Homo sapiens: one gene and its partners. The protein of the gene in region 1 purifies or fractionates together with the protein of each later gene. This does not show direct contact. Each region holds a gene or a part of one and is shown in the gene's direction. Other genes may lie near its edges.

What was found. Proteins that work in one complex are often made in the same cells at the same time.
Region 2: the proteins of PTPRZ1 (region 1) and VEGFA purify together in Homo sapiens (affinity purification with western blotting; one study listed by BioGRID). This does not show direct contact.
Region 3: the proteins of PTPRZ1 (region 1) and SPECC1L purify together in Homo sapiens (affinity purification with mass spectrometry; one large-scale study listed by BioGRID and IntAct). This does not show direct contact.

The regions. Positions count from the first base shown.
Region 1 is NC_000007.14:121,875,442-121,880,670, forward strand, and holds part of PTPRZ1 (receptor-type tyrosine-protein phosphatase zeta isoform 1 precursor), read left to right. Parts: intron 1-5,229. UniProt on the Homo sapiens protein: Protein tyrosine phosphatase that negatively regulates oligodendrocyte precursor proliferation in the embryonic spinal cord. Required for normal differentiation of the precursor cells into mature, fully myelinating oligodendrocytes.
Region 2 is NC_000006.12:43,782,782-43,787,263, forward strand, and holds the end of VEGFA (vascular endothelial growth factor A, long form), read left to right. Parts: intron 1-1,759; coding exon 1,760-1,781; coding exon of another isoform or gene 1,782-1,847; 3' UTR 1,848-3,706; downstream 3,707-4,482.
Region 3 is NC_000022.11:24,276,514-24,281,106, forward strand, and holds part of SPECC1L (cytospin-A), read left to right. Parts: intron 1-186; 5' UTR 187-290; intron 291-4,593. UniProt on the Homo sapiens protein: Involved in cytokinesis and spindle organization. May play a role in actin cytoskeleton organization and microtubule stabilization and hence required for proper cell adhesion and migration.

The DNA.
Region 1 (5,229 bases):
TGCAAAGGTTTTTCTCTGTAAAGCATTATTTGTAGCCTATTTTTGGTTGTATAGTTTTCAGTTTGTTGGACATTTTCTTTAAGTCTTTGGTGATGTAAAATTTAAGTGTAAAGAATTTAATTAACTTTTAAAGACTATCACAAGCTTATGTAATGCTACTGAATGTAAGCTTGCATTGGAACTCCAAGTGAGTTTTGTTGAGACTGGAAGGTGACTACTTTTGTATTCCTCACCATTTTAACAAAGTTGGCCTTTTACACAGTTGCCAACAGGCTGACCTGGAGGCATTGGCAACATCAAGTAACATAAATATCTTGATCTTGGGGCAGCATGTTTTGAAAAAGTGAGGCACATTATCTTCAAATGAAAAAGTTAGGCTCCATTTCAATTATTTTTCACTCAGCACCTACTTCAGTGTTTGTGGATGCGTTTACCCCTCATCTTCAGTGTTCTTAGAGCCAATGAGGTAGCCTGACATATGTATTAAGTGCTCAGTAAGGGTCTGTCAACTGACTAAAACTTGCTGTACAGGAGAAGAGCTCAATACAATTTGAACATTAGGCTGTCATTCTTACCATTATCCAGGAACAAGTTGTAGAGTTCACTAAGATATTGATTATTGGCAATTAAGAATGTCTTAGTGATCAGATCAGATCATTTTGTATCTAAAATGTCCTGATGTTTTGAACTGGACATAATAGACCAACTGCTTCTTTCAAATAACTTTCCAGACAAAAAATTTATCAGAATACATGAACCAAAACAAATTTTTCTTGACCCACTGAACAGGTGTATCTTATGGGAAAAACTACAGTGGCTTTCCTGTAAGGAGGCTTAACTATGAGTCATAGAGGAGAGGTAGATATTTTAAGAGCTTTTAAGGAATAATTTCTTCCAATTAATGAAGGAATTCAGGATCTTTGAATTAAGTGAATTATAGTGCTGCAAGGTACACTAAGTTCAAATGTTTAAGTATTATTATTAAATATGTAATGAATCAGATTCTGTACTTCTCAGTCACATCTTACTGCTTTAAGAGCCACATTAACAATAAATTATACCCAACTCCTCTGGAAGAATTAACTTCTTAATTTATGCTGGTTATAGAGTCTGAAATTCAATATGTTGTGACTCTCAGTTTGATCTATTTATCCTCTGAAAACAAATTGTAACCACATATAAAAAATATTCATGCCTTTTTCCCAAATAATAACTAGCCTCTATTCAGAAAATTAATTCCTTTTCATTGCAGAGTTGCAATTTTCTTTATTTCATTTCTCTCTCCTTTTTACGTATACTGTGGTTGCTTCCAGTCAGGGAAGTTTGCCAGGAGAAATCATTTCATTGATGAATTCATTTCTACTCTCATGTCTGCACTAGAGATTCAAGATCTTGCTTAAAATTTTATGTTGTGGGAATTTTGCTTCTGGCAAAAATTCAGGTTTTTCTGGAAGCATAAGCTGCGTTTTCTCATTCCCTTTAACTCCGAAAAGATTTGAGTACTGTCTAAAGTGAGAGATTTGCTTGACCACCCATTTGCTGACCGTTCAGACTGTTGCATGGAAATGGAACCCCCTCAGTCAGGACCAGAAGATCTCAAAGGAAGGCATAATTAAGAAGATGAGCCTGTGTTTCATTTTCAGTTACCATCTGCTCAAGTGTCTACTAGGTGCAGTTTCAGCACTGAGCATTTTATGTACATTTTCTCATTTCATTCTCCTCAAAACCCTTTGATATTGGTGTTTTCATCTTACACCTTTTACAAATGAGGGAACCCGGCACAGAGAACTCAGATAAGTTGCCTAACATCACAAATCCTGATTCAGCCTGTGTATTCCTTCCCAATCCAGAGCCTGAGGCTTTTCCTCTTTTCATTCCCAGGATCAATTTGCTGTTTGGCATTCACTAGCTTGCTTTCATGTGATGTGATGGTACATTTCACAGTCCCATTTGCTTTTCTGAGGATCCCTTTCATGATTTTGCCCATGTACTCTTGTATTACTTTTTTATCCTTTTTTGAAAATTAAGGCATAATTTACATTTTTACCATCTTGAAAGTTTTCACCGATGCATATGGTCATGTAGCAATCACTGTGATCCAGATACAGAATCGTTCCAGCCATGCTACTTTAACTACTCATTCACTAGATGTTCACTAAGTGCCCGACATCTGCAAGGCACCATGCTAGGCGCTGATAATTCAGCTATGCATCAACATACAGAGACTTAAACTCATGATGCTCACAACCCAGTTAATCTGATTCAATCCCACAATGAAAACTTTCTTTAAATCTTGTTTTAAAGATACTTTTTCTGTTCACAACTAGTCGAAAATAAGTCTTTTCCAAATATCTCTTAATGTGTTGAATATGTTAACTCTCAAATACTTTAAAATGCTTCCTGCTCCATTAAGAATTCCAATGGTAAAAGTCAGAGCCAATTTAAACAAGAGAGAGATATGTGTGTATATACATATATAAATGTATATATATGCATATACATAAAAGTGTATATATATATATGTGTTTGTGTATATATATATAAAATATATACATTTAAATTGTATTTCAACTTTTAGTGTCTTATTGAGATTAATTCCTAGAAGTAACTTCAGATTACAAAAGGAAACCAATTTTTCTCTGTGTTTAAAGAAATTAAAGAAATTAAAGAAAGAAAAAATATCATATAGCACAATCTTAAAACACTTGTATTTTAGAAATGTCCTGTTTAATACCATAGCCACTAGGCAGATGTAGCTATGTAATTTAAAATTTATTAAAATAAAACAATTCAGTTCCCTAATCACACCATCCACATTTCAAGTGCTCAGTAATCTGTGTGGCTAGTGGCAATCACATGGGACAGTGCAGACATGGAACATCTCCATCTGGCAGTGTTGTTTTGGAACAACAACAAAAAACGCTGGTAAAATAATGATTGATAGAACTCATGAGGAGTCATCAACTCAACTAGAAAAATTTCTAAAGTCATTGAAATTGTTTGAAGTGTTCGTGCATGTGAGTTAGTTATGGTTTGTGTTGTGTTAGCCTGCAAACATCCTAGAAACATGATGGGGCCTTTGGTAGAGCAGTAATAGGTGAAAAGAGTTCAGTGGCCACTTTGTAGCCTTTATGGACTGAGGTTGAACAGAAGAGATTAACTGCTGGTTCGGGAGTGAGTGCTCTGCTCCCATAGTACATTTTCCATAATTTGTTCTGTTATCCACTGTATTGTTTTTCAATTTATCTGTCTCCTTGACTCGACCACATTATTTGAGGGTAAAGAATCCATTCTTACATTCATCATTCATTCATTGTTAAATTCATTCATTGAAGAATTCAATGAAAAATTCAGTCAACATTGCATTCTTGAACTTAGCACTTACAGTAGGTGCCAATAAATCTTTAATGTATAAGGTTATAGAAAGATTGTACCATGAAGCTTCTTAGAAAAAAAAATAGTTGTTTGTTGTTGAGACTGGCCAATTTTCACTGGTCTTTCCCTCTTTTGATTATGATCTCAGTCCGGGAGTAAGGTCAGCATTCACCTTGACCTGTCCATCTTTAATGTCACTTCTGGTACGCGAACTTCACTTTCACTGATTCTCCCAGAAATACACGTAAGCATATAGGCATCCTCTATGAGGTTGGAGCTGTCATGAATGTGATTAATGCCTGTACAAGCATTACATAGATCCAGACACTATCTGTGCATGGAAAATAAAGTTCCTGTGATTGATACTGAGTGTGTACTTACAGAAGCAGTCTTGAGTGAGCTTTTAATTCTAGAGGAGTTGGCACCAATGAGTTTTGGATACATCCCAGGGGGCCAGAACATCAAGTCAGCTAGTGTGCCACTTTGTATGTGTACAAGTGCATGCGCCTGTGCTGCTCTGGTGTTGGGGAGGAGAGGGCAATGAGGGATGCAGGATGGTCAGTAATGAGTAAATAAAGTATCTTGAGCCCATGAACACTGTATTTTCAGTCAGCCAAAAGCTATCATATTGGTTTAAGTCTTCTCTAGTCAAGAAGGCCGTAAGAGATAGTGACACAAAACAGTTTTGAAAACCAGGCAAATGATGGGAAGTGCAGTTTTATCATGTGGATGTACGTGCTTTTGGAGTTTGTCAATAGTTTTATCATTAATCCTAGAGAGGATGTGCTACACAAGTTTAACTCTGCACATAGCAAATATTTGAACTGAGTTGAATTCAAATGGAATGGGACATGGGATCAGTTAAAAATCTTCATAGGAGTCAAAAGCAGAAAAAAAGGAGATGATCTTTTGTTAGGATATTTGCTTTATTTTCTTCTCAACTACCTTCCTCCCTTCCTTTTTTCTTTCCCTCCTTCCTTCTATTTTTCCTTCCTTCCCCTTTCCTCCCTTCTTCCCTCCCTTCCTCCTTTTATCCTTCATTCCTTTAATCCTTCCTTCTTTTCTTTTTCTTTTTTTGTTGCTATTTCCTCTTCAGCTTCACTTTCTTTTAGCATGAGTTTAAGATAATTAAATAAACTTAAGTTTGCTCAGCACCTTGATGAAAAGTTTGATAGGGAAGAGATTAATGCTATTTGAAACCATTAGTTAAAAATATTTTTACTGTGTTAATATCATTTGGGGGTCTTTGTAGTTAACAAAATTTTTAAAGTATGAGTTGGCAGATGTTTTTGCCTAAATATTCCAGTGTGGTAAAATGGGCTGATTGTCTTTGTTTTCCCCTTCTGATATTTGCCCACAGATATTAAAGTAAACTCAGTTATTTTGGGTACTGGTTAATGTGAAGTTTTTGGCCTTATTCAATAAGTACAAGTCAATTTATGTGCATGCTAACAGGGGATAGTTTTTTTTACAAGTTTCCTTGGAAATGTAGTACTTGGGTACTTGGAAATAATTTATTCATTAGTAAGAAAGAAGGATTTTCTGTTAGAATATCCATAACTATGATGAGAATACAGATATTTTCCTGCTCTTGGAGAAACATTCTACCCTCTCTCTCTGCCTTCCCCTTTAGCACTTACTGGATAAATTTTCTACTTTTTCACTGTTACTGACTGAACTGCCTATTTCTTGAATCCTAAAGCTCTAATGTATTTACCTAAGGATGGGTCTCACTATGAGCTCTTTTCTCTGAACTGATTAACTCAGTACCTTGAGTAGGAATAAAATAAAACATTGATTTTTAAAATGACTCCTTTAAGCAGAGATCATGGTAATAAACAGAGTCTTGATTAC
Region 2 (4,482 bases), on another chromosome or scaffold:
AAGGGGTCTGGCTGTTCGTTTAGGATGGGGCACTTTTGCCTACACACTGAAGGAGCTGTAGCATCCAAGAATACTAGATACCTTTAATCCTCCACCAGTCATGGTGACAACCCCAAGCAGCCCACACATTTTCAAGTGCCCCCAGGATGCGTGGAGGGAGGGGTCTGTGCCCATTCTCCTGACATTAGCCTGTGAGCTCCGTAAGCCCGGGCCTCGTTTACGTACCTTTGTGAGCCCCGGGCATCTGTACCTCTTTCCTTTGCCCATACTGGGGACCAAGGAAGTGTCAAGTGCATGAGTGAATGTGTGACTCAGTTCAGAGGGTGAGGTCAGGAGCACAGGGTCGGGACAGGTGGCTGGCATCTTTTAATGCCTTAGCTTATGTTCTTTATACCAACTTGGCCTGTGCTCAGAGTGAGGGAGGCCCTGGGGGTCAGGGTAAGCGTCAGTCAGGGAGGCAAGACTTTGTGGGGATTTCCTAGACAGGGCCAAGGCACCCCCAGCTCACCCCGAGGCTGTGTTAGGGAAGTCCTTGGAGTGTCTCCCCTCCCCCAGCAATGTTCTTGTGGCTTGTGTGTGCTCAGGGGATGCTGGGAACCAGGCCTGGGTAGTTGGTGTGGGGTGCTGTCTGTCTTGGCCCTATGTGAAACCAAGAGGGCGTATATTAGTGCTGGGGTGGGGGCTCTGCCTAACTTCAGGGCTGGATGAGGGGAGTCTCAGTTCCCCAGGGGTCCTTGGGAAAGATAAGGGACTTGACATTTTAGGGTTTTTAGGTGATTATTCTGCTGATGGGGGTTTGTGTGAAGTGACCTGGGAGCTAACTGAAGTTACTCTAACCTCCCAATACCTTTACCCAACCCCCAAGCTGGCTGTATCTGGGAATATCAGTTTCCAAAATTGGAGGCTTAGGACTCCGTTTCGGGGCTCCCCAGAAGGGTAGGGCCTGTTCTGCCTCCTTCTCACAATCACCCAGGGGCAGGGGCATGCTGAGAAAGTTCTTGGAGGCCCCCTTTGCTTCAGCTGGAGTAGTGAAGCCGCCGAATTGTCTCTCCCCATCCTAAGTGAAGCAGCATATTTGAAAGGAAAGACAACCTGTTACCTGGGCCTGCAACCTCCAGGCAGCTCAAGAGAGATGAGGCCTACAGCCACAGTGGGAGGGGACATGGGGAATGGAGATGGTCCCTCACCTTCCTGGGGCCTCCTGCTCTACGCTACCCCCTCGGGAGCCTCCTGTCCCCAGGGCAGGCCCTTGCCATTGTTGGTCACCCGGCCAAGCCTCTCTGCCTCAGGCGTTCTCCCAGAAGATCTGCCCACTCTCTTCCCCACACCAGCCCCTAGAGACTGAACTGAAAACCCTCCTCAGCAGGGAGCCTCTTCTGATTAACTTCATCCAGCTCTGGTCACCCATCAGCTCTTAAAATGTCAAGTGGGGACTGTTCTTTGGTATCCGTTCATTTGTTGCTTTGTAAAGTGTTCCCATGTCCTTGTCTTGTCTCAAGTAGATTGCAAGCTCAGGAGGGTAGACTGGGAGCCCCTGAGTGGAGCTGCTGCTCAGGCCGGGGCTCCCTGAGGGCAGGGCTGGGGCTGTTCTCATACTGGGGCTTTCTGCCCCAGGACCACACCTTCCTGTCCTCTCTGCTCTTATGGTGCCGGAGGCTGCAGTGACCCAGGGGCCCCCAGGAATGGGGAGGCCGCCTGCCTCATCGCCAGGCCTCCTCACTTGGCCCTAACCCCAGCCTTTGTTTTCCATTTCCCTCAGATGTGACAAGCCGAGGCGGTGAGCCGGGCAGGAGGAAGGAGCCTCCCTCAGGGTTTCGGGAACCAGATCTCTCACCAGGAAAGACTGATACAGAACGATCGATACAGAAACCACGCTGCCGCCACCACACCATCACCATCGACAGAACAGTCCTTAATCCAGAAACCTGAAATGAAGGAAGAGGAGACTCTGCGCAGAGCACTTTGGGTCCGGAGGGCGAGACTCCGGCGGAAGCATTCCCGGGCGGGTGACCCAGCACGGTCCCTCTTGGAATTGGATTCGCCATTTTATTTTTCTTGCTGCTAAATCACCGAGCCCGGAAGATTAGAGAGTTTTATTTCTGGGATTCCTGTAGACACACCCACCCACATACATACATTTATATATATATATATTATATATATATAAAAATAAATATCTCTATTTTATATATATAAAATATATATATTCTTTTTTTAAATTAACAGTGCTAATGTTATTGGTGTCTTCACTGGATGTATTTGACTGCTGTGGACTTGAGTTGGGAGGGGAATGTTCCCACTCAGATCCTGACAGGGAAGAGGAGGAGATGAGAGACTCTGGCATGATCTTTTTTTTGTCCCACTTGGTGGGGCCAGGGTCCTCTCCCCTGCCCAGGAATGTGCAAGGCCAGGGCATGGGGGCAAATATGACCCAGTTTTGGGAACACCGACAAACCCAGCCCTGGCGCTGAGCCTCTCTACCCCAGGTCAGACGGACAGAAAGACAGATCACAGGTACAGGGATGAGGACACCGGCTCTGACCAGGAGTTTGGGGAGCTTCAGGACATTGCTGTGCTTTGGGGATTCCCTCCACATGCTGCACGCGCATCTCGCCCCCAGGGGCACTGCCTGGAAGATTCAGGAGCCTGGGCGGCCTTCGCTTACTCTCACCTGCTTCTGAGTTGCCCAGGAGACCACTGGCAGATGTCCCGGCGAAGAGAAGAGACACATTGTTGGAAGAAGCAGCCCATGACAGCTCCCCTTCCTGGGACTCGCCCTCATCCTCTTCCTGCTCCCCTTCCTGGGGTGCAGCCTAAAAGGACCTATGTCCTCACACCATTGAAACCACTAGTTCTGTCCCCCCAGGAGACCTGGTTGTGTGTGTGTGAGTGGTTGACCTTCCTCCATCCCCTGGTCCTTCCCTTCCCTTCCCGAGGCACAGAGAGACAGGGCAGGATCCACGTGCCCATTGTGGAGGCAGAGAAAAGAGAAAGTGTTTTATATACGGTACTTATTTAATATCCCTTTTTAATTAGAAATTAAAACAGTTAATTTAATTAAAGAGTAGGGTTTTTTTTCAGTATTCTTGGTTAATATTTAATTTCAACTATTTATGAGATGTATCTTTTGCTCTCTCTTGCTCTCTTATTTGTACCGGTTTTTGTATATAAAATTCATGTTTCCAATCTCTCTCTCCCTGATCGGTGACAGTCACTAGCTTATCTTGAACAGATATTTAATTTTGCTAACACTCAGCTCTGCCCTCCCCGATCCCCTGGCTCCCCAGCACACATTCCTTTGAAATAAGGTTTCAATATACATCTACATACTATATATATATTTGGCAACTTGTATTTGTGTGTATATATATATATATATGTTTATGTATATATGTGATTCTGATAAAATAGACATTGCTATTCTGTTTTTTATATGTAAAAACAAAACAAGAAAAAATAGAGAATTCTACATACTAAATCTCTCTCCTTTTTTAATTTTAATATTTGTTATCATTTATTTATTGGTGCTACTGTTTATCCGTAATAATTGTGGGGAAAAGATATTAACATCACGTCTTTGTCTCTAGTGCAGTTTTTCGAGATATTCCGTAGTACATATTTATTTTTAAACAACGACAAAGAAATACAGATATATCTTAAAAAAAAAAAAGCATTTTGTATTAAAGAATTTAATTCTGATCTCAAAGCTCCTCTTGGTTTCTCCTTCTCCATTGAATCCTTGCTCTAGACTTCCTCCCGCCCCCTTTCCCTCTTCCTCTGGGGAACATGGCATTTGTCTTGGGTCTGGGAAAGGTACGTCTAATGTGTAGGATATGGGGTGACCCACCTTGTTGTGCTGGGGGCAAAGTCCTTCCATTTTGGCTGAGCTGGTCCTGGGGGAACCCATCCATCCTGTCTTGATATAGAAGGTGGGAAGCTCTGGGAATGGGTGGAGGGGGAGAAACAGCTTAGGAGCCAAGGGCCCTTGCAATTGGTAGTGCTGCCTTCAGGAATTAGATGATCCAGGCCCCTGTCCCTTAGCCAGGGAAAGAACTGGCCATGTCTCCAAGCTTGCTGCCCAGGAGACAGGAGAGAGCTGTTTTTGTCTGTGGGGGTCTTGTTGGCTGCAACAGGCTGGGAGTGGGAGGGGGATGCTGCTGGAGGGCTGTGACTCCAGGGTGTAACTTAATTTTACATAGTTTTACACCCTGGAGTTCCTTGAGCCTCTGGAAGATGGACCCATAGGTTTGGTCACCACTGATGGGACACTCCCTGCCCCAGCTTGCCATAAGCTCTTCTCTCACGTCCTGCTCCTGGGTAAGGTGGCACCTATCCAGGTCTTTGACACTGAAGGGCAGTGCTTCCAAATTCACTTCCTCTAGCCTCTCATTTATTCTTGCAAACCATAGATATGGCTTGAATAAATATTGAGCCAGTCATTGTGCTGCTATGAATAAGACACAATTCCACCCCTCAAGGATC
Region 3 (4,593 bases), on another chromosome or scaffold:
TGCCAGCTTTTCAGGAGGCTGAAGTGGGAGAATCTCTTGAGCCTAGGAGTTTGAGTTCAGCTTGGGCAGCATTGCAAGAGCCCAGTCTCAAAAATATTAGGTCAATAAGGTTTATTTTAATTAAACAAGAAAAAGAAATATCTGCTAAAATTTAAAGCTATTCTATTCTTCCTCTCTCTCTTCTAGTGTTCTTGGGGAAGATCCCGACTAAGCCATTTTCCAGTGGCACCTCTTCCATCATGAGTTCCTGAGGCAGTCCGATGGGGCTACTTTATTCCAGAACAATCACAGTGAGACCTTTTCTCCCAATAAATGCCCCTTTTCTCTCCTTAATATATTCTCTTGCTTACAAAACACTGGTGTCTCCTTATCATGGTTTGGTTCTACCCCACTGGGCCCAAGAATTCTTGCCCAGGAGCAACTGAATTTTCTTCTTGCTTGCTTTTTAAAACTTTGGTGGGGTAGAGCCAATTTTAAATCTTCTGATCCATTTTTTCATTGTTTTTCTCGCCCTTCTGCATTTTCTGCAAATTCTGTTGAATCATTGCAGTTACTTAGGTTTGCTTCGTCTCCCCCATTACAAACTACTTACTGGGTTTTTCAACCCTAGTTCCCTCATTTTTATGATTTATGCTCATTTCTTTGTACACTTCGTCTTGCTCCATCTCCCAACTCATGGCCCCTGGCTTTGGATTATTGTTTTGGTCTTTTATTTTTTGTCTTCTTCTACCTCAACACTTATCTTCCTCTCCCAGTCTCCGGTACCCTATCACCAAGGTTGTCATTAACCTTTCATATTATTCCTCATTATCCATGTATTCATTTGCAAATAAGCGTATATTAACAAAATCACAGGTTTATGGAGATATAATTCACATACCTTAAAATTCAGGCTTTTAAAGTGTACCTTTCATGTGGTTTTTGGTATATTCACAAAGTTATGCATTGATCACCACCATCTGATTCCATAACATGTTCAATACCTCAAAAAGAAGTCTGTACTCATTAGTAGTCATTTCACATTCACCACTCCCTCTGGCTCTGGGCAGTCACTGATCTTTGTGTCTCTATGGATTTGCCTAGTCTAGGTATTTTTATGTAAATGGCATCATACAACATGTGACCTTTTGTTTGGCTTTTTTCATTTAGCAAAATGTTATCAAGGTCTGTCCCTGTTGTAGCATGTATTAGCACTTCATTTCTTATATGCTGAATGATATACTTTATTTGTCCATCAGTTGTTCATGCTTTATTTGTCCATCAGTTGATGAACATTTGCGTTTTTGCCACTTTGGGCTATTAAGAATAATGCTACTGTGAACAAGTGTGTACAAGTTCCTCTACAAATTTTTGTGTGGACATATCCTTTCAGTTCTCTCAGGTGTATATCTGGGAATTGAATTGCTGGGTCGTGTAGTAGCTATGTTAAACACTTTGAGAAACTGCTATAATGTTCTCCAGAGCTGTACCATTTTAAATTCTGTGTATGAGGATTCCACGTTCTCCACTTCCTCACCAGTGTATGGATTTGGGGGTATACTTTTTAAAAAGTGGGATTAGGCTGGGCACAGTGGCTCACACCTGTAATCCCAACACTTCAGGAAGCTGAGGTGGGAGGATCACTTGAGCCTAGTAGTTTGAGACCAGCCTGGGCAACATAGGGAGACCCTGTCTCTACAAAAAATAATTTAAAATAAATTAGCTGGGCGTTGTGGCACACACCTGTAGTCCCAGCTACATGGGAGGCTGAGGTGGAAGGATTCCCTGAGCCCAGAAGTTTGAGGTTGCAGTGAGCCATGATGGCAGCACTATACTGTAGCCTGGGTGTCAGAGCAAGACTCCGTTTCAGGGAAGAAAAAAAAAAGTGGGATGATATTTTTGACACTTTTCTTCTTGTTTTCTTAATTTCATACTTCTGGAAATTCCATTAAATTAGCTGGTACCACTCTAACTCATTGTGTTTCATGGCTGCATAGTAATATTGCATAATATAAATATACCATTCATTCATCAAAGTTAGCAGATATTGACTGTTAGGTGCCAGGCACTGCTCTAAGCGTTAAAGAAAAACACACAAAAACTTTTGCATTCTTAGAGTTTATTTTCCAATGGAGGGGGTGGAGGGAGGTAAGAATTTAGGAAATAAATTAATTACATATATAGCATAGGGTTTCACCAGTGAGTGCAGCTTGAATCGTTGGCAGCTTTCTTAGTAGTATAAATACAGTACTAAAGATGAAATTACTCTAAATGGTGTTACTTAAATTACTGGAATAGGTATTACTATTAGTCACTTTGCAGGTGAAAGTGGAAACACCATCGTAAAATGTAAAATAGGAAACAGCTGGTTAATGTGGATCTGGAGTTTTTCTAGGACATAAACTGATGAGCCAGAAAAGTAAATGTGTCAGTCCTTGGTAGCACAGTTTGTACGTTTATAAATTTTATCCAAATCCTCTTAATCTAGTGATTAATAGACACTCTTCACAAAAGGATGAGGGAGGTATATGTATATGTGTTGAAAGGTTCCGAAGGATGCAACCGAGAGTACTTCGGGGGACGTGGCAAAACTTCCAGGCCCATTCAAGAGTCTTGTTTTCTCCCTGAGCTTTTATGTATTTATTATATTGCCCTATTAATTATTGAGATTGTGCCTTACAGTAAAAGCTGCTTTAAATTGTTGACGCTATAATTTAAAATAATCTGGGTCACCTAGAGTGGTTAAACCTGGAAGAAAAGGATATCCTTCCTGCCAGGGCAGATTGTATGTAGATATGCAACCTGGTTGCGCCTGTGCTGACCTCTACTCTGTTGGGCCTGGAAGTATGCAGTTCAACGTTTCTCTTCTGATTTTTAAAAAAAATTTGACTTTGTTTACTTTTTATTTTATTTTAATTTAGAGACAAGGTTTCACTATTTTGCACAGGCTGGTCTCAAATTCCTGGGCTCAAGTGATCCCCTTGCCTCGGCCTCCCAAATACTGGGATTACAGGCATGAGCCACTGCACCTGGCCTTAACTTTGAAATGAAGTTAGAAATGTACATTTTATTTTTTTAATTATTATTATTATTATTTATTATTTTAGAAACAGGTCTAGCTCTGTTGCCCAGGTTGTAGGGCAACAATGGTGCAATCACAGCTCACTGCAGCCTCCACCTCCTGGGCTCAAGTGATTTTCATGCCTCAGCCTTCCGAGTAGCTGGGATTACAGGCATGTGCCACCATGCCCGGCTAATTTTTTGTATTTTTAGTAGAGACCAGGTTTCACCATGTTGCTCAGGCTGGTCTTCTGACCTCAAGTGATCTGCCCGCCTCAGCCTCCCAAAGTGCTGGGATTATAGGCGTGAGACACCACGCCCAGGTGAACAGAATAGTTTTCCATTCACCACAGTTTGTGACAGTCTCTACATTGTGAAGTGACAAGTTCTCTTCTATTTTCCTTCTGCCCCTCATCACCTTTTTCTTCCTCATTTCTTTTTTGAATTTTGCTGTCTTGAATTGATGTCTAAAGGATGACATAGCAGACAAGGGGACTGACACATGAACTCTCATGAGTTACTGAGGAGTTTCTCAGTGCTCTGTCTGCATCATCTGCTCACTCTCTCCTTCCTAGGTGCTAGCCTGCCAACCTGCTTTGAGAAATTGGAAATGAATTGGGGGGTAATCAGCCTCCCCTTGTACATGTAGGGACCGCATCTCCAATGCCTTGCTTTACATAATGACGAATGGTGTTTTGCTTACCTACTTCCACACAAACTGCTGATATGGTTAGGATTTGGGAAAGGGGAAGAAGGGAATTTTGGGTTTTGAGGAGTAGCTGGGGCTTGAACAAAGAAGAGGTAGTAATGAACATTCCTGGGGTGAGGCAATTAGTTAGCTGAGGGAGAAGAAGGCATATAATAAATTAGGGATTGACAGACTGTCTGTAAAGGGCCAGACAGTAAATGTTTTAGTCATTGAAGACCTTAAGGTCTCTGTTGCATCTAATCAACTCCATCATTGTAGTGCAAAAGTAACCACAGCCACTACAGATGTGAATGAATGTGACTATGTTTCAATAACATTTTTTTTTTTTTTTTTTTTGAGACAGTGTCACTCTGTTGCTCAGGCTGGAGGGCAGCAGTATGACCACAGCTTATTACAGCCCTGACTTCCCAGGCTCAAGTGATCCTCCCACCTCAGCCTTCCAGGTAGCTGGGACTATAGGCATTTGCCACCGCCCCCCATTAGTTTTTGTATTTTTTTGTAGAGGCGGCGTTTCACCATGTTGGCCAGGCTGGTCTTGAACTCCTGAACTTCTGGGCTCACGCTCTCCACCCTACTCGGCCACCGAAAGTGTTGGGATTACAGGCATGAGCCAGTGTCCAGCCCAAAATAGTCTTTTGATTTTTTTTCCCCCAACCATTTAAAAATGCAAAACATTCTTAGTTTTTGGGCTGAAAAAAGACAAGTGATGGGTCAGATTTGGCCCCGGATTGTGGTTTGTTTACCCCTGTTACAGAGGAACAGGAAGCAGAGAGGACTGGTTATAGGGCCTGGGAAGCCAAGCCAGGGAGTTAGACTTAAGGTAGTATGTAAGAGGAAACCATTTT